Linked DNA regions of Homo sapiens. The protein of the gene in region 1 interacts with the protein of each later gene in a biochemical or structural test. Each region holds a gene or a part of one and is shown in the gene's direction. Other genes may lie near its edges.

What was found.
Region 2: the proteins of GOLPH3 (region 1) and TPST2 form a complex in vitro, tested with the Homo sapiens proteins (one study listed by BioGRID).
Region 3: the proteins of GOLPH3 (region 1) and EBAG9 form a complex in vitro, tested with the Homo sapiens proteins (one study listed by BioGRID).
Region 4: the proteins of GOLPH3 (region 1) and PGAP4 form a complex in vitro, tested with the Homo sapiens proteins (one study listed by BioGRID).
Region 5: the proteins of GOLPH3 (region 1) and FAM3C form a complex in vitro, tested with the Homo sapiens proteins (one study listed by BioGRID).
Region 6: the proteins of GOLPH3 (region 1) and DIPK2A form a complex in vitro, tested with the Homo sapiens proteins (one study listed by BioGRID).
Region 7: the proteins of GOLPH3 (region 1) and CANT1 form a complex in vitro, tested with the Homo sapiens proteins (one study listed by BioGRID).

Annotation. Positions count from the first base shown.
Region 1 is NC_000005.10:32,167,820-32,171,319, reverse strand, and holds part of GOLPH3 (Golgi phosphoprotein 3), read left to right. Parts: intron 1-3,500. UniProt on the Homo sapiens protein: Phosphatidylinositol-4-phosphate-binding protein that links Golgi membranes to the cytoskeleton and may participate in the tensile force required for vesicle budding from the Golgi.
Region 2 is NC_000022.11:26,521,496-26,524,132, reverse strand, and holds the end of TPST2 (protein-tyrosine sulfotransferase 2), read left to right. Parts: 3' UTR 1-2,137; downstream 2,138-2,637. UniProt on the Homo sapiens protein: Catalyzes the O-sulfation of tyrosine residues within acidic motifs of polypeptides, using 3'-phosphoadenylyl sulfate (PAPS) as cosubstrate.
Region 3 is NC_000008.11:109,553,673-109,557,172, forward strand, and holds part of EBAG9 (receptor-binding cancer antigen expressed on SiSo cells), read left to right. Parts: intron 1-192; coding exon 193-271; intron 272-1,056; coding exon 1,057-1,215; intron 1,216-3,262; coding exon 3,263-3,370; intron 3,371-3,500. UniProt on the Homo sapiens protein: May participate in suppression of cell proliferation and induces apoptotic cell death through activation of interleukin-1-beta converting enzyme (ICE)-like proteases.
Region 4 is NC_000009.12:101,484,374-101,488,658, reverse strand, and holds the start of PGAP4 (GPI-N-acetylgalactosamine transferase PGAP4), read left to right. Parts: upstream 1-1,485; 5' UTR 1,486-1,710; intron 1,711-1,888; exon of another isoform or gene 1,889-2,091; intron 2,092-2,190; exon of another isoform or gene 2,191-2,403; intron 2,404-4,285. UniProt on the Homo sapiens protein: Golgi-resident glycosylphosphatidylinositol (GPI)-N-acetylgalactosamine transferase that catalyzes the N-acetyl-beta-D-galactosamine transfer from an UDP-N-acetyl-alpha-D-galactosamine to the 4-OH-position of the first mannose of the glycosylphosphatidylinositol (GPI) of a GPI-anchored protein (GPI-AP).
Region 5 is NC_000007.14:121,389,809-121,393,308, reverse strand, and holds part of FAM3C (protein FAM3C precursor), read left to right. Parts: intron 1-381; exon of another isoform or gene 382-441; intron 442-1,947; exon of another isoform or gene 1,948-3,500. UniProt on the Homo sapiens protein: May be involved in retinal laminar formation. Promotes epithelial to mesenchymal transition.
Region 6 is NC_000003.12:143,981,823-143,985,322, forward strand, and holds part of DIPK2A (divergent protein kinase domain 2A isoform a precursor), read left to right. Parts: intron 1-3,500. UniProt on the Homo sapiens protein: May play a role in cardiomyocyte proliferation through paracrine signaling and activation of the PPI3K-AKT-CDK7 signaling cascade.
Region 7 is NC_000017.11:79,003,265-79,006,764, reverse strand, and holds part of CANT1 (soluble calcium-activated nucleotidase 1), read left to right. Parts: intron 1-3,500.

The DNA of each region.
Region 1 (3,500 bases):
TAAAACATTATGAAATTTTTTTTGCAATTTTTTTTTTTTAAAGCTCATCAGCTATTGCTAGTGTTAGTGTATTTTATATATGGCCCAAGACAGTTCTTCCAGTGTGGCCCAGGGAAGCCAAAAGGTTGGACACCCTTGCTCTAAATGTTTAAGGTGAAGCATATTAACATGCTGTTTTTCGGTGATTGGGTCTTAAGAAGATAATCTAAATAATTTGTTGAAGTTTAACCATACTCACATAATTTAAACAATTTAAAGTTATTTGGCGGGTAATTGAAACCATGTGTTCTGTTTATTTTGCATCAAGAGTCACTCATTATACTTTGCTAGTCATGGCTAAGGTCCAGATGCTTGCTAGCTTATTGTGAGCATTTCTTCCTGATTTCAGCAACCACATGGGGAAATTTTTTCTCTTTTTTTTTAGGCAAGTCCAGAGAGTTGAGGGGTGGGGTTGAGACTACTGGGATTTTGTATTGCTTTAGGTTTTGGTTTTAGGGATTAGCCTATATATTTTTTCCTTTCATCACATCTTTAAAATTTTTTTTTTTAAGAGATGGAGGTCTCAAGATGTTGCCCAGGCTGCACTCAAACTCCTGGGCTCAAGTGATCCGCCCTGAGTAGCTGGGAATACAAGGTGCATGCCATCAAGCCAACTCATCATGTCTTTACACTCTAATAACCAGCCCTGTCAACTTATCTGTTGGTATGTTTTTCCCTTGGGAGGCTCGCCACCATGTTTTTAACCTATAGTACTCTTTTTAGGAGGCAGGAATTGCTGTCTTACCCTGAGCCCAGGCGTTTATGCTAACTCATTGCTTTAACTGATTTTTACTTCAGCATTTATCTTTTTAATGTCTGGATTCTCCTAAGAACTTTAAAAGCTAAACTTTACATTTAAGCAAATCATTAATGTTGGAAATATTTTATATATGTGAGCTAATAACCTTATGTGAATATACTTGTTAAACCAGTACCTAGAGCAAGAAACAGAAGCCCTAGCCCTCCACTTGAGTATCTTTCCAGTCACTACCCATTCCTCAGGGGTAACCACTGGCTTAATATTAGAATTCAGCATAGATTAATTTTGCCTAGTTTTTTGTACTTTGTGTCTGCTTTTTGTTCAATGTGAGATTCATCCATATCGTGTGAGATTGTCCTTTGTTCTTATTGTCTTACCAATTTATTTTTAACATGTTTATAATCTATAATATTTAAAAAATTACTTTGACATATTCTGAGTCAAGTCTCCCTCTCTTTTTTGCTGAACAGAAGGTTCAGTTTTTGAATAAGCAGATGGTCTGGCTTCAGATTACCTGTTAGGAGTGAGTCTAAAGTCATTGTGATTGATTTTTTTTTTTTTCTTTACACATTTCAGATTTTTTTTTTTTAACCAATGATATTTGTTTTTTGCTTTTATAAAACAGGGATGGCTAGTCCCCTCAGAAGATTTTCATGCTCACTTGGGCAGAGAATCAGTGCATAAGTATTTAAGTAACTCTTTAAAGACCACAGTAAGGATGGCAGATAGTTTACACCTAAATTCAACTGCCAAGTAATTAGCAGTATTTCTTTAATTGACCCAGTGTTTGAGGGGGAGGGACAGCAAAAGTGCCAGGTATTTTCCTTTCCCTGTGTGTGTTTATTCTATAGATGCTTTCCATAGAATATTTTCAGGATGCTTTATTGAGAATTACCACAAATAACTGGTGTCATATATGTTTGAATGTCTTCATTGGTGGCAAATCTTAGTCTTTTAAGGTTAGATTTAATTATTTTCAGTGGCCAAGTATAATTTGGAGTATGCCTATGGAACAGCAGAAGCAGAGAGAGGCTCTATAGTCCTGTCCAAAGTGTATTCTTTGGCTTTTACATATAATTTAAGCCTTCTGAGCTTCAGTGTTTTCATGTATAATGGAAAAGTAGTCATTCCATATGATGGTTCTGATTGTACTGCTGTGGATGTTTATTAACTCCTCCCCAGGTCTTCGCTTTATTTTGTATTACTTTAGGGTTTCCCCATAGTGTGTTGCCTGTTTTTGAGACAGGGTCTTTCTTTGTCACCCAGGCTGGAGTGCAGTGGTGCGATCTTGGCTCACTGCAGCCTCAACCTCTTGGGCTAAAGTGATCCTCCTGCCTCAGCTTCCCGAGGAGCTAGGACCACAGGCACACACCACCATGCCCAGCTAATTAAAAAAAAATTTTTTTTTTATAAAGACAGGGATTTCACCACATGGCTCAGGCTGGTCTTGAACTCCTGGGATCAAGTGATCCTCCCGCTTCAGTCTCCCAAAGTGCAGGTATTAGAGGCATGAGCCACCGCACCTGTTTTTTTTTTTGTTGTTGTGTTTTTTGGTTTTTGTTTTAAGACAGATTGTGCTGTGTCGCCAGGCTAGAGTACAGTGGCGAGATCATAGCTCACTGCAGCCTCGAACTCCTGGCCTCAAGTGATCCTCCCGCCTCAGCCTCCCAAAGTGTTGGGATTACTGCGACCGGCTCTAGGATGCACTCTTGAAGCATATTATTCCCCTGCTGTTTTGTCATGCAGCCAGACTTGTCCAATCATATGTTTTCTTTCAGGGCTTTGGATCTTGAGAGAATAACGAGCTGTAGGGTTTTTTGGAGACCTTTCCAGAGTCATGTCAGCGTGTGGATCAGACTGTTCTTTGGCATGGTTCTTTGAGCTGCTTTCTCTGGTCTGTTGGCACTGTTTTTTTCCAGTCTGATTTTCCAGTCATCTTTCAGTGTTGTGAGTTTCAACAGCCTTCCAGTAAAGTTGCTTTTTAAAGATAGCCAGAGTCAGTTACTAATGTTTCTAATGCTTGTAGACAAGAACTGTAATACAGTAACTTAACTCTATGTCTTGAAAAATAAGTAGGTACTTGAGGTAAATAATATGTAATGGGGTAAAATACTTAAGATTAACCAAAATGATAGAACTGACTTTTGTGTGGCTTTTACACAGGCTCCAAAGATGTTTTCCATTTTTGGAATAAGGTTCCCAAGGTCACTACTTTGAAGTATAATAGTGATGAAGATGTATAACTTAACAAAAATTGTTTTCCTTTCTATACGTGTGGTGATGTCCACCATCTCTACATATCAAATCTGTAAATCAGAAATTCAGTCAACAAGTATTCAGAATTTCCAGATGTGCTGAGTTTTAGTAATTTAAAATATAATAAAGGCTTCTGAGTTTTTAATGAATTTTCGTTGTTTCTAAGACAAATGATATTTCCTTCATATTTTTTGAAGTTTTGAATTTTTATCTATTTTTTTCAGGTGTTTAAACACAGGTATGAGATATACAGGATCTCAGAAATTACTTTTGAAGTTCATTAAACTATTTGATTGTACTTTTTTTCTTTTGAGACAGGGCCTAGCTTTGTCTTCCAGACTGGAGTGTGGTGGTGTGATCATGGCTCATTGCAACCTCGACCTCCTGAACTCAAGCAATCCTCCCTCCTCAGTCTCCTGAATAGCTGGGACTATAGGCGCACCCT
Region 2 (2,637 bases), on another chromosome or scaffold:
TTATTTTTTAAATGTTTGACACACAGTCTCTGATAAATGATCATTCACCAATCACCGATTACTCTCCTTGCTCTGTTAAGTGTGACACTGTCCCTTTGAGAATCTGGCGACAGCTATGTATCCCATCACCACACACCCCAAAAAAAAAATTTATGTCTGGTTCCAGGAGTTACCTTTTATGAGAAGTCCATCTGTGAAGACCCTGGATGTTCAGAGAACTTCCTGGGAAAACACTGAAAGAAAATAAAGAGGCCGGGCCCGGTGGCTCATGCTTGTAATCCCAGCACTTTGGGAGGCTGAGGTGGGCAGATAAGCTGAGGTCAGGAGTTCCAGACCAGCCTGGCCAACGTGGCGAAACCCCATCTACTAAAAATACAAAAATTAGCTGGGCGTCGTGGCGCATGCCTGTAGTTGCAGCTACTTGGGAGGCTGAGGCAGGAGAATTGCTTGAACCCAGGAGGCAGAGGTTGCAGTGAACCAAGATCATGCTAGTACACTCCAGCCTGGGCAACAGAGTGAGACTCCATCTCAAAAATAAAATAAATAAAACAAAATAAAATAAATACAATTTCTGTTTCTAGCCCCTAAGTGGTAGCACTGGGTCTTGTTCCCTGAAAAAAACTAGGCTCAGAATCCACTCTCATTTCATCTCCCCTGATTTGATCTGAAAAGATTTTGTTTAGAGTACTACATGAATATATTATAAAACATGGGACAATCAGAATTGATAGTAAGAAGGCAAGTGGCTCTATTTGTACTTCCTCTCAATAGCTCCTAAAGGTAATGCTACCATTTTCTGTTTGTACATAGTCTTCCAGACTTTAAATTTTTGAACATATAAATATTATCATCTTAAAGACGTATGGAAAAAACCATTTTGAATAGGTTATTCCAAAATGTAATTTAACAGATTGCTCTGGAGGATTGTTTGTTTGTTTGTTTTGGAGACAGAGTCCCGCTTGGTTGCTCAGGCTGCAGTGCAGTGGCACAAACACAGCTCACTGCAACCTCTAACTCCTGCAAACACAGCTCACTGCAACCTCTAACTCCTGCAAACACAGCTCACTGCAACCTCTAACTCCTGCAAACACAGCTCACTGCAACCTCTAACTCCTGCAAACACAGCTCACTGCAACCTCTAACTCCTGGGCTCAAGCAGTCCTTTCACCTCAGCCTCCTGAGTAGCTGGACCATGACACCTACCTAACTTTTTATTTTTTGTAAAGAGGGGAATCACTATGTTGCCCAGGCTGGTCTCAAACTCCTGGGCTCAAGCAATCCTTCCTCAGCCTCTCAAAGAGTTGGGTTTACAGGCGTGAGCCACCGCACCTGGCTCCTGGAGCATTTCTGATGTGAACATGTGCTGATCTAACACCACTCCTTTTACCAGCTGCCTGTTCTAGAGCAAACCATCTTTTTTGAGCATTCCACTTTGGCTAGGCCCTTAGGCTGTTAGCAGTTTTCATCGCTACTGGCAAAGCTGCAGTGGACGTTCTCCTGCACATATAACCTCTTGATGCCACTGTATGAGTGAGTCTCTGCAAAATGAGAAGTAGAATTGCTGGGGTGAAAGGCATACATACTAACTTTTTTGATTAATTCCACCCATGTACCCTGATTTGGGCAGAATTTTAATCTCACTGTGAAATCAGAGCTTTGTTCTAGAGCCTTTCTTGGGGGTTCCATGGATCAGTGGGTCAGCCGTCACTTGTGCCCTGGCCCATCCTCTGTCCAGCTTGGGCAGCATGCATCATTCATTCTGATTCCTTAATTTGCCATATGTGAAAACATGGTAATCTATACATTACTTGGGTGCTATTATTATATATAACTAGCTTTGGAGTCAGAATTAGCGTCTCATCCTGGCTCTACCACTTTCCAACTGTGCGACTGTGGCCAAGTGACTCCCCTTCTCTGAGCCTCAGTTTTCCTCTTCTGTAAAATGGGGGTAAAGGGATAAGAACTATAGGGGGATCTCAGGGGATGGTTAAGAGAAATCCATGAGATAAGCAAACACATTATCTAGTTTAGTAAAGCTAAGCAATGAAGACTTAACAGCCCCATGGTGAAGGCTTAATACATGGTAGCTATAATGATTACTATTAATATTGTGAAATAAAAGGTTGTGATGAACCAACCATATCTTCTCATCAGGATGTATGTTTGTCCAACTGATAGCCATTTGTAGTCATGATCTGGGGTTGGAGAAGGGTCTTCTGCACATGTGCCAGATGGACTGAATATAGATCTTCACTCTCGTTAGCAGCCACCAACCTGGTTGAGCCATCAGGGCCTCCAAAGGGCTTGGCAATTTTTCATTGAAAACAAAAAACAAAAACAAAAAAACTCTTAAACTATGTCTACCCAAAGAATAAATCCTCTACCCTTCCAGGGTAAGGGATGGACAGCTGATGGAATTACAGACCCAGGAAGCTCATGGTTGCCAGTCATTGGGTAGCAGAGGACATCCAGTCTCATTCATTGTTCCACTCATCTCTTGCGGCCCAACCAAGCAGCCCCAAACTGAGTGACTTAAAACAACTTGTTTTTTTGTTTGTTTGTATGTTTTTTTGAGAGCGTTTCACTCTTGTCGCCCAGGCTGGAGTGCAATGGTGTGATCTTGGCTCACTGCAACCT
Region 3 (3,500 bases), on another chromosome or scaffold:
AAAAAACATTCACAGGATGTCTGATTTATGACTTTTTTTTACCATAAATTAGTGAGTAACTGTTACTAAAATCAATAATCATAAAATTGAGAAAGATCTTGTTTTATAAGCCTTCAATTACCATACATAATAGTGCTTTTACTTTGCTTGTTTTGGTGGTTCTTGAAATAAATTATTTCATTTTTGTTTCAGATCTGGCAGAGGACGGAAATTAAGTGGAGACCAAATAACTTTGCCAACTACAGTTGATTATTCATCAGTTCCTAAGCAGGTAGGTTTTTTTTGTGTGTTCTTTTGTTTTGTTTTGTTTTGAAAGATTGAATAAGTGTCCTAGAACAATATTTTAAAAACTGGATTGCAGATCATTAATAGAAATTAATTTTTGTTGTGTTGTTAAATTTATCTGGTCTGAAAATTCTATTTGGTTCTACATTTTATCTTCTGTTTCTTTGTTGACATTTTCTATTGTGTTTTCATTGGTTTCAAGTGTTTGCTATTGTTTGTTGGAGCATTTTTATAATAGCTATTTTAAAGCCTTAGAGAATTCCAACATATCATTTTGGTGTTGGTATCTGTTGATTAACTTGCCTTGCAAATTTAGATGTATTGTTTTTATATGCTGAATAATTCTGGGTTGTTTCATGAACATTTTGAATACTATGTTTTGAGACTTCATCTTATTTAAATCCTGTGGAGAAGCTTGGTATTTTTTATCAGATGATCAATCTGGATAGGCTTGGGTGAAAATGTCCAGCCCTTCTGTGAGTTGTAGTTTTAATGTCAGTTCAGTTTTCAGAGCATTTGCTTTCGTTTTACTTTGTTTTTTGTTTTTTGATGGACATAATAGAATAAAATAGAACAGAATATATCAGAATGTCTTGTATTTTTTGAACTTTTGATCAAGTTTTGATCTGTGATATGAAATGTATGTTTTCCCGTGGGTTAAAAAAGTTTGAAAACCAGTGTTTTAGAAAGCCCATTTTTCTAATAAATCATCAATGATGTGTTCATTAAGTTGCCCCTTTGTGGCTGATAATGTTGATCAATTAAATTTAGACAGATGTTGAAGAGTGGACTTCCTGGGATGAAGATGCACCCACCAGTGTAAAGATCGAAGGAGGGAATGGGAATGTGGCAACACAACAAAATTCTTTGGAACAACTGGAACCTGACTATTTTAAGGACATGACACCAACTATTAGGAAAACTCAGAAAGTATGTTAAGATTTATGCTTTTGGAGATTAAACTACTTTTTAGATTCCTATAGTTAAAATTAGGTGATACAATTCACATTTATTAGAAAGCCTATTTCTTTTTTTTTTTTTAATACTTTAAGTTTTAGGGTACATGTGCACAACATGCAGGTTAGTTACATATGTATACATGTGCCATGTTGGTGTGCTGCACCCATCAACTCGTCATTTAACATTAGGTATGTCCCTAATGCTATCCCTCCCCTCTCCCCCAACCCCACAACAGGCCCCAGTGTATGATGTTCCCCTTCCTATGTCCATGTGTTCTCATTGTTCAGTTCCCACCTATGAGTGACAACATGCAGTGTTTGGTTTTTTGTCCTTGCGATAGTTTGCTGAGAATGATGGTTTCCATCTTCATCCATGTCCCTATGGAGGACATGAACTCATCCTTTTTTATGGCTGCATAGTATTCTATGGTGTATATGTGCCACATTTTCTTAATCCAGTCTATCAGCATATTTCTAATTATCAGTTGTTTGTTTTCTGTCATGTTAAGTAAGAATTTTATATGTTCAAATGACCTAGACATAGTTCTAGTAAGTTGTACCCCAAGTCTTTTAAAATTATATTTATATATGTATCGAAATCCTACTATATGTCAGATTCTAGACTCCAGTCTCTGCCATGGAGACTAAGGTGAATTGGATAAGAGTTCTAACAAGTTTGTACTTCAGTAATATCTACAAACTGATAGGTAGAGTTTATTGTTTGTAACCATTATAAAACTGATGCAGGACTCTAAGAACTTAAGAGTAATTGTGAGTTTGTGTTAGTCATCCATACATTATTTAATCCCTTTTGAATTGAATATGGAAGATCATTTAGAGATGCAGGGAATTACTGGAAAAAACAGAATGCTTGAGTATTTTCGTTTTTATTTATCAAAATAGTACATGTACTTTTTTTAAATCAAAAACTGTAGAAGAACTTATAATGAAAAGTGAGACTTCTGACCCATCACTCTTAGCCAGTTCTTCCAAGAAACAGCCACTCAATAATTTTCTGTTTGGATTTCTTCAAGTGTTTGTCATCGTATCTATCTATATGGTTATATTGCCATTTCTTGTTTACCAGTAACAGACATTGTCCACTGACATTCATACTATGGTAAATGAAGATTTATTTCTTACTACCATTCCCTCTCCTTTATTCCAGTCTACCTCACTAATCACTCTGCTATATCAGAAAAACACACTTAAAGTTCACTTTCTTATTCAAACATAGAAAATATTTTTATCATATATATATATAAACACACACACATACACACTTCATAAAAATTAGGACATTATTTCACATTTTCTAATACAGTTGTTCCTCACCTTCTTTCTCTCAGCTGATTTCAGCTATACATTTATATTTACATTGTCTAGGTTGATAACATTTACATTCTTTGTTGTTGAGTTGTCCAAATGTCTCAATGCTAAAACACATTAAATTGTGTATTTTTAAAGGATCCTTTAAGTGAGTTTCTTAATAGATGAATACCTTGCATTGTGGAAGTATACTGCTGCTCTCAGTAGGAACCTAGTATATTGCTATAGTGCCTTATTAAATTAGTTAGAATGGAAATGCTTTAAATGAGGCTACCAACATATCATATAAGTGTATTTTGATGCTACTGGCCTGAATGAGTTAATGTATTCATAGGTATCTCACATGCTGAGAGAGTTGTTAATACTATTGGCAGGATATGATACCTGTTGTTATTTAATACAGTAACTAAAAGTGATTGATTATATTTTGAGGTCTGGGGAAAGTAGGATAGAAAGAAAGAAAATGGGCCTGTATTAATTTTTAAAAGTGAAATACAATTTTTCTTAGTATGTAACTGATTTGTACAACAATTCCCTGGGAAATTGGTATTTACAGACTTTTTTTTTAGTTTTTACATTATAAATTTTAAGAAGAAATATTTTAAGTAATTAGAAAATGTTTTGGTTGTCTATTTTTATGTAGTGATTTGTAAAAGATCCCTATAATTCTTTTTCAATTAATCTTTCAGATTGTTATTAAGAAGAGAGAACCATTGAATTTTGGCATCCCAGATGGGAGCACAGGTTTCTCTAGTAGATTAGCAGCTACACAAGATCTGCCTTTTATTCATCAGTCTGTAAGTATGTTAATGGTTCTAGGGAAGGGTTTTGTTGTATTTCTGTTTTCTTTAAAGCAGAGGAATAAAATCTAAATGAGTTTAACATAGTATTTATATTTTTGTAACTTTGAAACAGGTTTAGCAGTTT
Region 4 (4,285 bases), on another chromosome or scaffold:
GCCTGGAACATCATAATAGGTACTCAATGAATTTTTGTTAAACAAGTGAATAACTACCAACCATTTATAGAAAGCTAGATATTTTGACAGGTAGAATGCTAAGCACTTTATATACATTATCTCATGTAAACCTCTCAACAAACCTATGAGGGAAATATCACTGTCCCCAATATATAGATGAGAACATTGAGGCACAGAGGAGTTAATTTGTCATAGCCAGTAAATAGATTAGACCCCAGCACTGAGCCAATGACAGTGAACTGAATTCAACTTGTGTTGGTTACAATCCTCCAATTTCGGAATATCAGACTCCCATTTTTTCTCCCAGGAAATGAAACTACCTTCCCAAGCTCCCTTTCTGTGCTATATCCAGCTCTCATACTTTCCAGCCTCAGATATAGGTTTTCCAGCATTCCTAATGACAAATTCCTTGAGTGAAGGATCCACACCTCATTCTTACTTCATTGTCATCTATAGTGATGGCAGTATGTCAGAACCATTCTTCAGTAAATGCTGGCTGAAAGAGTAGATGATGAATGGGGGCTCAGGTGGGTGTTTGTAAGGTTCTAAAGGAAGTTAATATCTAGTATCAATTTTACTTACACAAGAAGAAATCATATGAGCATTTACTGGCTTTAATGCTTTATCTTGTGACCACTGAACAGACCTTTTAGAGCAGGTGTTGGCAAATCAGGCAGTAAATATTTTAGGTTTTGTGGGTCATAAGGTCTCTGTCACAACTATCCAACTCTGCTGTTCTTTCATGGTAGCAGCCATAGACAATATGTAAATGATGACTATGTTGCAGTAAAACTTTGTTTACGATCATCAAATTTTGAATTCATATAATTTTCGTAGCCCTGAAATATTCTTCCATTTTTAACCATGAAATATTGCAAAAAACATTCTTAGCTTGTGGGCTGTACAAGAACAGGCAGCAAACTGTAGTTGCTAACCTGTGGCCTAGACAGGCAAACCTAGGATTAGAAGCACTGAGTAAGGCCGTACAATTGTGTGCTGAAAACCCATTCAGAAGGGAAAGTCCAAGGTGGAATGTAGGAGGCTGTTACTTTTCTTTTGACCCCCACATTTTTCCTCCCTCGGATCATTCCGTATCTTTTTCCTATTTGCTTTGCCGGGATTGTTCTCAATCAATGTGCATACTTTCTCATACCTCAGGCGTTATGTCTCTCGTGGCCGTTTGTGTTTAAATTGAGGGTTTGGGGAAGACTGAAAAACATTCAAGACCCAAAGTAACAGCTTTCTCATGAAGCGTTTACACGCATTGAGAGATATCGTTCCATTGGTGTGAATAAGTCTCTATGTACACACCTGATGAAATATAATGCTGGCTTCTAGTCCCCTCACAAAAGAAACAGGCTTCCTGTTTGCGTGACTTGGGGGCGACTCCTGCTTTTCCCTGGCTGCCCATCAGTTGGCGCCTTTTGCCGTCCTTTTTCCCCAAGCCGCTTTGGGGGCCGCGGTCTCTCCGCAGCTCGCGGGTCACATGGCCCGCCTGAGCAAGGGGAGCCCTGCGCCTGAGCTGCGAGGCGGGAGGAGGTGAGGCTCCGGCGCACACCCAAACCGCGCTGCGCCCGCTCCTTCCGGGCCCCGGAGATGGCGCCTCCACCGGGATGAGCTAGCCAGCCTGGGCAATACCAGAGGCGGCCCTCGGCGCGCGCAGGGGACCGAGCTGGTCGCCCCAACCGGGTAGGTTTCTGTTGCGCACGATCTGCCCAGCCCTTCTGGCGCGGTGGTCGGAGCCCTGGACACTAGAGCGAGGGGACAAGGATTAGGGGTGGCCACAGCTGGCACAAGCAGGGCAGCTGGGGGTTGGGGAGAGTCATCGCAGAGGGCCTGTGCCCCGGGCAGTGCGCCTCGGGCAGGCGGGTTGCCTAGCGGCCCTGCCCGCAGCTCCGACCGCTTCCTGCCGGAGGATTGCGAGGACCCCGCAGGGGTCCCCAGGGCAGCAGGGGCCCGCATCAGTGCGGGGATGGTTGAGTGTCTCGGGGGCGCCTCCCTGGCCCTTGCCTGCGCCAGCTGCGCTGACAGGTCAATAGAAGGACGCGAGCGGGGCGCGTGCCAGTCTGGGTAAGACCCTCGCCGAGCCTAGCAGGGCCGAAGCGCCAAGGGGCCTGGCGCCTAATGGCCGCCCGCAAGCAGGGGACCCTCGCGGCGCGTCCACACCTTAGGTTCGCCGGGCGCGCCGAGAGCGCGGCAGCAGTGTTGGGTTTCTGCGGGCGACCTCGCAGCCAAGGGCTGGGGGAGGGCGACTGGGCAGAGGAAGGCGTCCCTCCCAGGACCAGGAAAAACCAGCAGAAGGGAAGGAGCGCAGCGATGGAGACGGTCAGCTCGGCCTACGGGTGGGAAACTGAGGCTCAAGCGTGGCAGGGACTGCCCAAGGTCAGCGACAGACACTAGATCCAGGGCCCTGGACATCGTCCCCCATTCTTTTTCCAAGAGGGAGGGTTAATTAGATCCACCTGGGTGTGTCTCGCCCTCTTTCTGGCCCTTGGCTCCGGCGTCGCTAGTGTCGCACTGCGCTCGCGGTGTCTTGGGGCGTGAGCTCCTGCAGGGTCGTTGTGACCCGCATCCTCTGCTCGGCCCAGGCTCTCTCCGGGGGACCGCAGGGCGGCTCCAATGATGATCTCACCATGCGGACCATTAGCAACACATGCGGGTGTGTGTGCGCGTGCATGTGTGTGTTTCTCCTTCTATAGGGGAAATAGCTTTTTTTTTTAGGGGTGAATTTCTAGAATGCACTGCACTAGGTACTTTATGAGGTGAGAAGAGAAAATCAACATTATTAGAATTATTAGAATGTTGTAAGGATACACATATTAGAAAACATCCAGTAAACAAAAATCCAAAGGAGAAGCAAAATAAAAATAACTTAAAACTTCAACTTCTAGATGGTTTAGATTTTCTGCATATCTTAAAATTTTCTCTATGTATACACATTTGAAGTTTTAAATCAAAAGCGTGGACCAAAAAATGGTATCTTGTCTTAATTTGCATGTCTTTGATTACCCATGGGAATTAACACTTTTTCCTCTGTGTAGTAGCCTTTTGCATTTCTGTAGGTGAGTTGATTGTTAATTCTTCTGCCCATTTTTCAGTTGGAGTATCTTTCTCCTCCTGACTTTTAAACACTTTATGTGTATTACACATTGAAGTAGTAATTCTTTGTCACGTGTTGCACTATAGCGAGTATTTTCTGTTAATTTTTACTAGTTCTAATTCCAAATGATCTTTTGGATACTTTGGTCAATTTTTTATTTTGATGGTTATATGGGCGTATAAATTTGACAAAACTCATCGAAATATATATATATTTAAGTGGTGCATTGTACTGTATGTAAACTGCACCTCAATAAAATTAATTTTTAAAGGCCTAGAAAATTATCATCCTGGGTAATGAGAGAGAATTTGCCTAGTCAGATATTAAAACCTGTTATAAAGCTTTCATAATGAAAATAACATGGCCCTGGCACCACAATGCAGAGAGAGATAGATGCCAAAATCCACAAACAGATATATATATACATCATTTAATTTATTATAGCTATAGCAACTTAAATCACAAATTTAAAAATGGACTTAACAGGTGCCCTGACTGTCATGTTCACCTTCCCAGTGTCTAACACAAGACTCAGTGTTGAATCAAATGCTTAATTATGATTATAAAAGTAATGATCTTTGCAGAAGTGTAGATATCAAAACAGGAAATTGCCATCCCCATACCCTTCTTTTCTCCTTCACTAAATTATACTCCACATTAAAAATAAAATGGTCATATCTCTGTACATTTTTCTGTAATTTGCACTGATATAGTTTGCATTTCTCCCTTCTGGTCTTAGTCTACTTGAGCTGCTGTAACACATTCTCAAAGACTAGGTGGCTTAAACAACAGACACATTTATCTCTCAAAATTCTGAAAGCTGGAAGTTCCAGATCAGGGTGCCAGCATGGTCAAGTTTTGGTGAGGGCTCTCTTTCCGGTTTACATGTGAGAAAGCAGAGAAGAGAAGTGATCTCTCCTGTCTTTTCTTATAAGGACACTAATAAAGAACATGCATTACTGAGGTCTGCACCCTTATGACCTGATTACCTTCCAAAGACCCCATCTCCAAATACCATCATATTGGAGATTAGGATTTATAACACGAATTTTGGCTGGGCAGGAGGAGGACAAACATTCAGTCCAAAGCACAAACCTAGCTAAGATTTCTTTTATGTCAACATATTTAAACCTTTCTCTTCTTAACATTTCCACAGCATACCCT
Region 5 (3,500 bases), on another chromosome or scaffold:
TTTTATAATTTTTTTTCTTAAAAGACGGGATCTTACTATTTTGCACAGGCTGGCCAAATCTGCCCTCAGGTGATCCTTCGACCTCAGCCTCCCAAAGCTCTGGGATTACAGACATGAGCCCCTATGCCTAGCCAGATTTTCCATTTTAAAGTGTGGCATTTAGCACGTTCATGATGTTATGAACCGTCACGTTTCTAAAACATTTTCATCACCCCAAAAGGAAACCCCATATTCATTAAGCAGTTGTTCATTCCCTTCTCCCTGCCAATCCTCGGCAACCACTGATCTGCTTTCTGCCCCCATAAATTTATCTATTCTGGATTTTCCTAAAAATTGAATAATTCAATATGTGTTCTTTTGTGTCTGGCTTCTTTCACTTAGCATGTTTTAGAGGTTCGTCCTCTAAATCAGCAGGTATCAGTACTTCATTCCTTTTTAAGGGTGAGTAATATTCCATTCTATATTCCATTCATATACACCACATTACATATATATCATTTCGTTGATACGTACTGCATTTTGTTTATTCATTTGTTAAATTTTTGTGTGCTATTCAGAAAGTTATATGAACATCTCTAAATTGATTTTCGTCATAATCTCTACAAGGCTTGCTAAGGTAGTGTTATGGTGTCAGGTGTGCTACCTAACATATCATTCATTACTTGCAGTTAAGTGATTGTTAAATGAGTTTTGAAAGACGCAAGGTCAACAAAAATGGATTTTTAAGTTGGTTCAGTTGATACGTGGTGTGGTTTGGTTCTGCGTCCCCACTCAAATCTCATCTCAAATTGTAATCCCTGTGTGTCGAGGGAGGGAAGTGATTGCATCATGAGGGCGGCTTCCCCCATGTTGTTCTCGTGACAGTGAGTTCTTACAAGATCTGATGGTTTTACAAATGGAAGTTTTTCCTGCACTCTCTCTCTTCTCTCTCCTGCTGCCTTGTGAAAAAGGTGTCTGTTTCCCCTTAGCCTTCCTCCATGATTGTAAGTTTCCTGACACCTCCCCAGCCATGTGGGACTGTGAGTCAGTTAAACTTCTTTCCTTTATAGGTTACCCAGTCTTGGGTATTTCTTTATAACAGTGCAAAAACGGACTAATACAATACGTTTTCACAAAATTTTACAATAGAAGCATCTTTAGAGTTTATTTGAACAAACAATTCATGAATTGAGCAGCTCCAAACCAGATCTGGGAGCTCCACCAGGGGAATCCAGGAGGGAGGCTTTTATAGGAGGGTCACAGATGTAAAGCAAAGAAAATATTTGATTGGCTGCAGTTATACAGTTGTTTTATTTGGTCTGTCGTGTTGGAAGGTCCCCTAGATATGTAATTAGAAGTTTGTTGGATGTTTCTGATTGATTAAGCTTAAGTTCTCTTTTTCTTTAGCATAGGCATTTATAAGAAGTAACTTCATATTTTGCTTATGTTTGCAAATCAAGTGAGGTTGATGTCACTTATGAGGCCTAATTGGTTTTGTCTGCTCGGGGATTCTTCAGGCATGGTTTCCATTTTAATTTACTTCAGCAGTGCTAATTCTCATTCAGTTTTTGTGGTACAAATGGTGTGCCAATACTGCATTTCATCCAGGACCCTTGGGCGATGGAACCATTCTGTTTCTCCATGTCTTCATTTGGAGGGTGTGACTGATGGAATTATGTCTACCCTGGTGCACTTAAATTCTGCAGACTACTTCAAAACAGCATAAGTAGAGTGGATACCTAAGGGAATTCTTAAACACGTAGAACAGGAACCTATAACTTCTCATCTAGTACAATGTGAGATAGTTACATGAGATGAAGATAGCAGTTCTACTGTATGTAAATGTGTACCTTTCTCTAATCTCATTTTAGCAGTTTATGAGTGGGACACTTCATTACCCCATTTATGTTCAACCTCTAACAGTTAATATATTTCATTTTATTGTTGTCATTGTTTCTAAGAATAGCTATTTCTTTCTGTCCATCCATTCATTCATCTATCCATCTCTCCCTGGATGGTGTACTATAGGATTAAGGTAGCTTAGATCACAAGTGTTTAAACAATTGTAGAACTCATAGCAGGCAAAACTGAATGTCATTTTGTAGAGTTCTGTCTTGTTTTCTGTTTTGGGTATGTTTGTGGTCTTGGTTGCAGAAATCCAGTCACCATTTCATTTCGTTAAGTGGATTATAACTTTTTAAGCAAAATTCTGCTTTGGTAGATAATAAAAACTGCAAGAAAACATTTGAGTAATATTAAATCTAGTACTCTGGTTTAACCCCTGCAAACAGGAGTTCTTGATTATTTATTCCTCACCACATTTTCTCTGGATTTATCTGTTGCCCACCAAAACTGAAGACCCATTCTGGTGGCAGGTTGACTGTTCCAGAAAGAATGAAAAATCTTGTCATGTGAATTTTACTTTTGAACTTTTTTGGTTTAGATCTGCCTTACCTTCCCCCCCCCCCCCCCCCCCGCCCCACACAGCCTTTCCTGTGTGTGTGGATTGGTGTGCTGTAGATCTGAAGCTCTCAGATCTGAGCACGAATGACAGTCATCTGGGGAGCTTATTAAACATGCAAGAGCTTTAATCCCACTCCTAGGGATTCTGATTCTCCAGGTATGCAGTTGGCTCAGGAGTTTGCATTTTAAAAAACACACTAGTAATTCTGGTGTGCATGCTATAGGTAACCCTGTAGTAAGAGGTTCAAAGAACATATGATGTTTCATTGAATCTATGACGCCACAGATGGTAAGGGTCAGAATCTGGTAGCTTTCAGCTGCATGACTCCTAAGCCCTAATTTCCAATCTTGTGGCTAATTTGTTAGTCCTACAAAGGCAGTCTAGTCCCCAGGCAAGAAGGAGGTTTGTTTTGGGAAAGGGCTGTTACCATCTTTGTTTTAAACTATAAACTAAGTTCCTCCCAAAGTTATGGCCTATGCCCAGGAATGAACAAGGACAACCTGGAGGTTAGAAGCAAGATGGAGTTGGTTAGGTCAGATCTTTTTCACCATTTCAGTTATAATTTTGCAATGGTGGTTTCACTACTAAGAAATAAAAATGTGGTTGTAAGCCTTATCCTGAGTTTAGTTAAAATGAGGGAAGCAAGATGCAAAATGAGTTTAGTTAAAATAAATAGGGTATTAAGTGCCTGGCAACCAGAGGTTCCTCTTATTATCTTAACAGGTTATTATGAAGCATAGCAGATATGAGATTTTAAAAAATTACAAAGCAACAGTTCTTCAGATCTTTTACCATATAAATTATTTGATTGCAATGAGGAGTTTATATAAGGTGTCCTTAGTTGACATCTATTTGTAATGAAAATTGTACTGATGACTTTGTTTTAAAATGCAACTTAGGTGTATATGGGGGTGTAATAGACTCCAGTTTGGCCCCATATTAATTTCATCCTACTCATTTCCAGTCATTTAGATGTTGCTGGCTCAGTTCAGAAGTCTGATTTCTATCCTCCTTGTACTTCAGTGATTCCTGTTTTGTAATTATAGTCCACTGAAAT
Region 6 (3,500 bases), on another chromosome or scaffold:
TAGCTTGGCCTAAATTTGCTTCTTACTACCTGTGTGACTTTAGGTAAATCGTTTAACACTGTACTAATAAGATTGAACTGGATTTACAATTGAGGTACAGTTAAACTCTAAATTTCTTGGATTTTACATTTCCTTTATTGATCACATAAAATATTTGATTTTGATCTAGGTAGATTATTAGGTTATTTCAGCATTTGGAATTTGTTTTGTGCTTATCAGTAATAAAAAACAAGTTAAAATACTGTGTTTTTGTGTGTACACGTTTCCAATTTTTAAGTTTCTTGCATTTTTAGTGCTTGTGGATGCTCTCTACGTTTCTTATAGCATCAGTGCTTTTAAGAGTTTAGTGACTAGTCTATATATTTCATTATGAATTAGAAATTACTAGAGGTCAGTAAAGATGTTTCTCTAATTTAGTGGTTCTTCACTCTATTTGGAAGGGGGTTCATTATTTGTAGATGCCGTTTTAGTAGGTGTTTAGGAGGTGCATGAAGATAAGCATATCTTTTGATGAATGTCTGGAATTGTTACTTAAAATTTTTAAATAGAGAAAGCCCATCAGACTAACAGCAGATCTCTCTGCAGAAACCCTGTAAGCCAGAAGAGAGTGGGGACCAATATTCAACATTCTTAAAGGAAAGAATTTTCAACCTAGAATTTCATATCCAGCCAAATTAAGCTTCATAAGCGAAGGAGAAATAAAATCCTTTCCAGACAAGCAAATGCTGAGAGATTTTGTCACCACCAGGCCTGCCTTACAAGACCTCCTGAAGGAAGCCCTGAATATGGAAAGGAAAAAACAGTACAAGCCATTGCAAAAACATACCAATTGTAAAGATGATTGACACTATGAAGAAACAGCATCAACTAATGAGCAAAATAACCAGCTAGCATCATAATGACAGGATCAAATTCACACATAACAATATTAACCTTAAATGTAAATTGGCTAAATGTCCCAATTAAAAGACACAGACTGGCAAATTGGATAGTTAGAACCCACCAGTGTGCTGTATTCAGGAGACCCATCTCACATGCAAAGACACACATGAAACATTTACCAAGCAAATGGAAAGCAAAAAAAACACAAAAAAAACAAAAGGGGTTGCAATCCTAGTCTCTGATAAAACAGACTTTAAACCAACAAAGATCATAAAAGACAAGGGCATTACATAATGGTAAACGGATCAATGCAACAAGAAGAGCTAACTATATATACATGCTCCCAGGATCAGGAACACCCAGTTTCATAAAGTAAGTTCTTAGAGACCTACAAAGAGACTTAGACTCCCACACAATAATAGTGGGAGACTTTAACACCCCATTGTCAATATTAGACAAACGAGACAGAAAATTAGCAAAGATATTCAGGACTTGAACTCAGCTCTGGACCAAGTGGACCTAATAGACATCTACAGAACTCTCCACCCCAAATCAACAGAATACACATTCTTCTCAGCATCATATTGCACTTATTCTAAAATAGTAAAACACTCCTCAGCAAATGCAAAAGAAAATCATAACAGTCTCTCAGACCACAATTCTAATTGCAGTCAAATTAGAATTCAGAATTAAGAAACTCACTCAAAATTGCACAACTACATGGAAACTGAACAGCCTGCTCCAGAATGACTACTGGGTAAATGATAAAATTAAGGCAGAAGTAAATAAGTTATTTGAAACCAATGAGAACAAAGACACAACATATCAGAATCTATGGGACACAGCTAAAGCTGTGTTTAGAGGAAAATCTATAGCATTAAATGCCCACAGGAGAAAACGAGAAAGGTGTAAAATCGACATCCTAACATCACAATTAAAAGAACTGGAGAAGCAACAACAAACAAATTCTAAAGCTAGCAGAAGACAAGAAATAACTAAAATCAGAGCAGAACTGAAGGAGATAGAGACACGAAAAACCCTTAAAAAAATCAATGAATCCAGGAGCTGGTTTTTTGAAAAGATTAGAAAAACCAGACCACTAGCAATACAAACTGTTTTGTATTGGGAAGGCTGTTTCATCTACATTTTGTATTGGGAAGGCTGTTTCATCTACATTTTGTATTGGGAAGGCTGTTTCATCTACATTGAAAATCTGTTGATTAGTCACTTCCATTAATTATCTTAGCTAGATCTTCTGGATAATTTGCTATGGTTTCTGTATCAGCACTTGCTGCTTCTCCTTGCGCTTTTATCTTACGGTGATGAATTCATTCCTTAAACTGCATTAACCAGCCTCTGCTAGCTTCAAACTTTTCTTCTGAACTCTGAGCCTTCATAGAATTGAGGAGAGTTGGGTTCTTGTTCTGGATTGGGTATTGGCTTAAGGGAATGTTGTGACTGATTTGATCTTTTATCCAGATCACTAAAACATTCTCCCTATTAGCAGTAAGGCTGTTTTGCTTTCTTAACATTTGTGTGTTCACTGGCGTAGCACTTCTGATTTCTTTTGATAATATTTCCCTTGCATTCACAGCTTGGCTGTTTGGGTTAAGAAGCCTAGCTTTCTGCCTATCTCGGTTTTAGATGTGCCTTCCTCACTATGCCTACCTATTGTTTCTAGCTTTTGATTTCAAATGAGATACCTGTAACTGTTTTCATTTGCACACTTAGAGGCCATAGTAGGATTAATAGGCTTAATTTCAGTATTGTTGTGTCTCAGGGAACAGGGAGGCCTGAGGAGAGGCCTCCCTGTTCCCTGGGGATGGCTAGTTGGTGGAGCAGTCAGAACACACACATTTATTGATTCCTTTTTTTCTCTAATGTTCATTTTCTAGTTACATATTTTAGCAGTGGAAGGTATCTTAGATAAAGCCTGTTATTTTACTTAAGGTGAAAATGAGTGTTCATGGTCATGGAACACGTTTTTTTTTGATTTAGGATGATAATCCTGCCAGTAGTTTTAAAATCCATTAGAAAACCTTGCTAAGATAAGAGTAATTTTGAGGCTAGGCCAAGGAGAACAGAAAATATGGCTGGGAAAGGGAAACAAGATGAACTTGGACCAGATGTGCTCAGAGTGGAGGTTGCATTAATAGGATATCAGTTTGTCCCTTCCCAACCTTTGGATGTAGGGTAAAAGACATCTCTCAAGAATCTTTCCCTGAATTCCACCCCATCTGCTTCCTGACTAGGAAAGGCCCCTACTAAATGATCCCCTGGGACCTGCACCACTGCTTAGTAACTAACACTTTTCATATTCATAATTATTTGTTTGGTGACTGCATGCTCTTCTAAAATAAAAGCCCATGGCTAAATGGAGACTGTTTGGTTCACCCTTAATTGCCACCGTAACACAGTGCCTGTTGCCTGGTAAATAACTGCTGGTTAATAGGCTGCAGTGCTATCAGTTTAAATAAAAGGATTGGTTGATTACATTTACACAAGTGAAGAAGATAAGGGAAAGCATAAATACTTTTAGATTTGGTAATAAAGACAGTGTCTTCCCTCTTATTGATCATTTTGGTTCTTAGATTTTGATAAGCAAGACTTGTCATCCT
Region 7 (3,500 bases), on another chromosome or scaffold:
GTTATTTTCACACACTCTGGAAAAGGACACCTTCCCAGATGTGTGGTGCCATTTGGAATGTGCCTTTCAACTGAGAAGGTCGCCTTTTGGCTAAAATTCCTCCAGGTGTAACATCGATGATACAAATTAAGCAGACACAGCCTCTTTACAAGGCAGTAACTGCAAACCGTAGAGGGTTCTGAAGCTGTGCGCCCACACCATAGACAGTGACTGGTCCTGGCCCTTGGAAAAACCTGGAGGCTCTTTCCCCTCTTCCTCCTGTGATTGGTGGAGGAACAGCTCCCCGAGATGTCCACGTCCTACCTTCTGAGCCTGTGAATATGTTACATTACATGGCAAAGGGGAATTAAGGTTGCTGATCAGCCGGCCTTAAAGTAGTGAGATGATCCTGGATTTTCCCAGGGAGCCCAGTGTAATCACAGGGTCCTTAAGAACAGAAGAGGGAAGCAGAAGAGCCGGAGGGAGATGATGGCCAAGAGCCTTGGGGAAGTGCAGTGGGCGGGCTTTGGAGGGGGAGGAGGGGCCACCAGGCAGGGAATGTGGGTGCCTCCAGAAGCTGGAAGAGGCATGAGAATGGAGCCATGGCCCGTGTGAGGCTTCTGTCCCACAGGACGGTGCCTGCTGCCTGCCGTGTGCTGGATACTAGGGGCGGGGACAGGTGCAGAAGTCAGTCAGATCCTGAGCTTGACCTTTAAGGAGCGTGCTGTCTGTGGAGGCAGGATGGCCTAACCAGACTCCCTGTGACCTTCTTCCTTTCTGGTTTCCTTGTACTGCCCACCCCCGAGGAGATTTGCCGTGGAATTTGCAGGTACAATAGTTAGCCTTGCAAGTGCCAAAGCAGGAATCAGGTAACGTTTTCAAGGAGTCTGGCCCATAGCAGGCATTAATAAGTGTTTCTTTGAGATGCGCCACCCGTGTTCTCTCAGGCGCTGTTAGCATGAGTGTGTGAAGGCCTTGGCTTCTGCCTTGGCTGTGCTGAAGAGTCTGTAGGTCAGTGGGGTTTGCTCTTTACCATGGCAGTGAACACAGTGGGCACTCTGAGGCCTGCCTGCCTGCTCTCTGGGTGTGGGAAGGGAAAGGAAGGTAGCTCTTCTCCAGAGATAAGGGGTTGGCGCACCTGCCACCTGCCTACCCGTCCCTTCCAAGGAGGTGGGGGCTAGGATGTGGCGGCCTCTTAACAGGATGATGTGGCTTCCTGCCCTGCCTGGATCCTGAAAGGGAGGAGCCTGGCAGCCCTCAGTAAACCTGCTGGTTCTGCCACCTGTCCTATTCCACTCCTGCAGGAAGCTGGAGAAACAAACCCTCTTGGCTGTCTGCTGTCCAGGGAGTCGCCACTCCCTTCATTATAGCCTTGCTCAGAGTGCAGCGGCAGGCCTGGGGATGGCCTCGGGAGGTAGGTGGCCCCTGAGCCCTTCTCCTGGGAAAGGGCAGCAGCAGGGAGACGCCTCCTGGGTGTGCACAGAGAAAAGCACAGTTTCCCTAACTCCCCGCTCCCTAACTCCTCGCTCTTTAACTCTCACCTCCCTAACTCCCCCCTCCCTAACTCCCTTCTCCCTAACTCCCCTCTCCCTAACTCCCTTCCCTAACTCCCCTCTCCTTAACTCCTCTCCCTAACTCCCCCCTCCCTAAATCCCCTCTCCCTAACTCCCTTCTCCCTAACCCCCCTCTCCCTAACTCCCCTCCCTAACTCCCCCTTCCCTAACCCCCCTCTCCCTAGCTCCCCTCTCCCTAACTCCCTTCTCCCTAACTCCCCTCCCTAACTCCCCTCTCCCTAACCCCCCTCTCCCTAACTCCCATCTCCCTAACTCCCCCCTCCCTAACTCCTTGCTCCATAACTCCCCCCCAGCTCCCCTCTCCCTAACTCCCCTCCCTAACTCCCCTCTCCTTAACTCCTCTCCCTAACTCCCCCCTCCCTAAATCCCCTCTCCCTAACTCCCCTCCCTAACTCCCCTCCCTAACTCCCCCTTCCCTAACCCCCCTCTCCCTAGCTCCCCTCTCCCTAACTCCCTTCTCCCTAACTCCCCTCCCTAACTCCCCTCTCCCTAACCCCCCTCTCCCTAACTCCCATCTCCCTAACTCCCCCCTCCCTAACTCCTTGCTCCATAACTCCCCCCCAGCTCCCCTCTCCCTAACTCCCCTCTCCCTAACTCCCCTCCCTAACTCCCCTCTCCTTAACTCCTCTCCCTAACTCCCCCCTCCCTAACTCCCCTCTCCCTAACTCCCCTCCCTAACTCCCTTCTCCCTAACCCCCCTCTCCCTAACTCCCCCCTCCCTAACTCCCCTCTCCCTAACTCCCCTCCCTAACTCCCCTCTCCTTAACTCCTCTCCCTAACTCCCCCCTCCCTAACTCCCCTCTCCCTAACTCCCCTCCCTAACTCCCTTCTCCCTAACCCCCCTCTCCCTAACCCCCCTCTCCCTAACTCCCCTCCCTAACCTCCCTCTCCCTAACTCCCCTCTCCCTAACTCCCCTCCCTAACTCCCCCCTCCCTAACTCCTCTCCCTAACTGTCCTCTCCCTAGCTCCCCTCTCCCTAACTCTCCTCTCCCTAACTCCCCTCCCTAACCTCCCTCTCCCTAACTCCCCTCTCCCTAACCCCCCTCTCCCTAACACCCCTCCCTAACTCCCCCCCAACTCCTCTCCCTAACTCCCCTCTCCCTAACTCCCCTCCCTAACTCCCCTCCCTAACTCCCCTCTCCCTAACTCCCCCTCCCTAACTCCCCACTCACTAACTCCCCTCTCCCTAACTCCCCTCTTCCTAACTCCCCTCCCCAATTCCCCCCTCCCTAACTCCCCCCCAACTCCCTACTCCCTAACTCCCCGCTCCCTAACTCCCAGCTCCCTCACTGGTGGCTCCCCTGCGCTCTGGGAGTGTCCTGTGGGATGGACAGATGCCTCCGTGGTGCCTTGCAAGCCTTGCAGGTGGTTATTCCTCCTGTGAGTGCTCCTGTGAGTGCTCTCCAGGCAGCAGCAGGGGTCCTGTCCCTGTAGGCCCCTGAGTCTGGGAGATAGCTGGTTTGCAGCCCCACTGAACAGGAGAGCCTGGCTGGCCACAGAACCCATGACTTTGCTGTAGTCCCTGAGTCCTCTTGTTGCTGATTATCTAAAATCAAACCATTACTCTGCAGGCACTGGGTTTGTCAATCTTTTCACAATAAAGCGAGCATTTAAACTGCTTAAGCTTTGAGGGGTGTAGGGAGAAGCCTCACACGAGCCCCTTCTGGAAAGGACTTTGTCCATCTTGTGTCTTACCCTCGCCGGTTCATTTCTGTTGTTTCTGGCTGGCAACAAACAAAAGAGCCCCCCCACCCCCCACCCCCGAAAAAGAACCCAGCTTTTTAAAGAACATGCAAACTCTTGCCTGCAGCAGGCGCCGGCAGCCAGGCACCCCGGCAGCCAGTGGTAGCTCATACACCAGCATGGGCTGTGGCAAAGGCATCTGATTTGAAATTTTTTTGCAAAATAAAATAATTCCTTGGGGTCCTGAAGGAGAGATGAAGCCC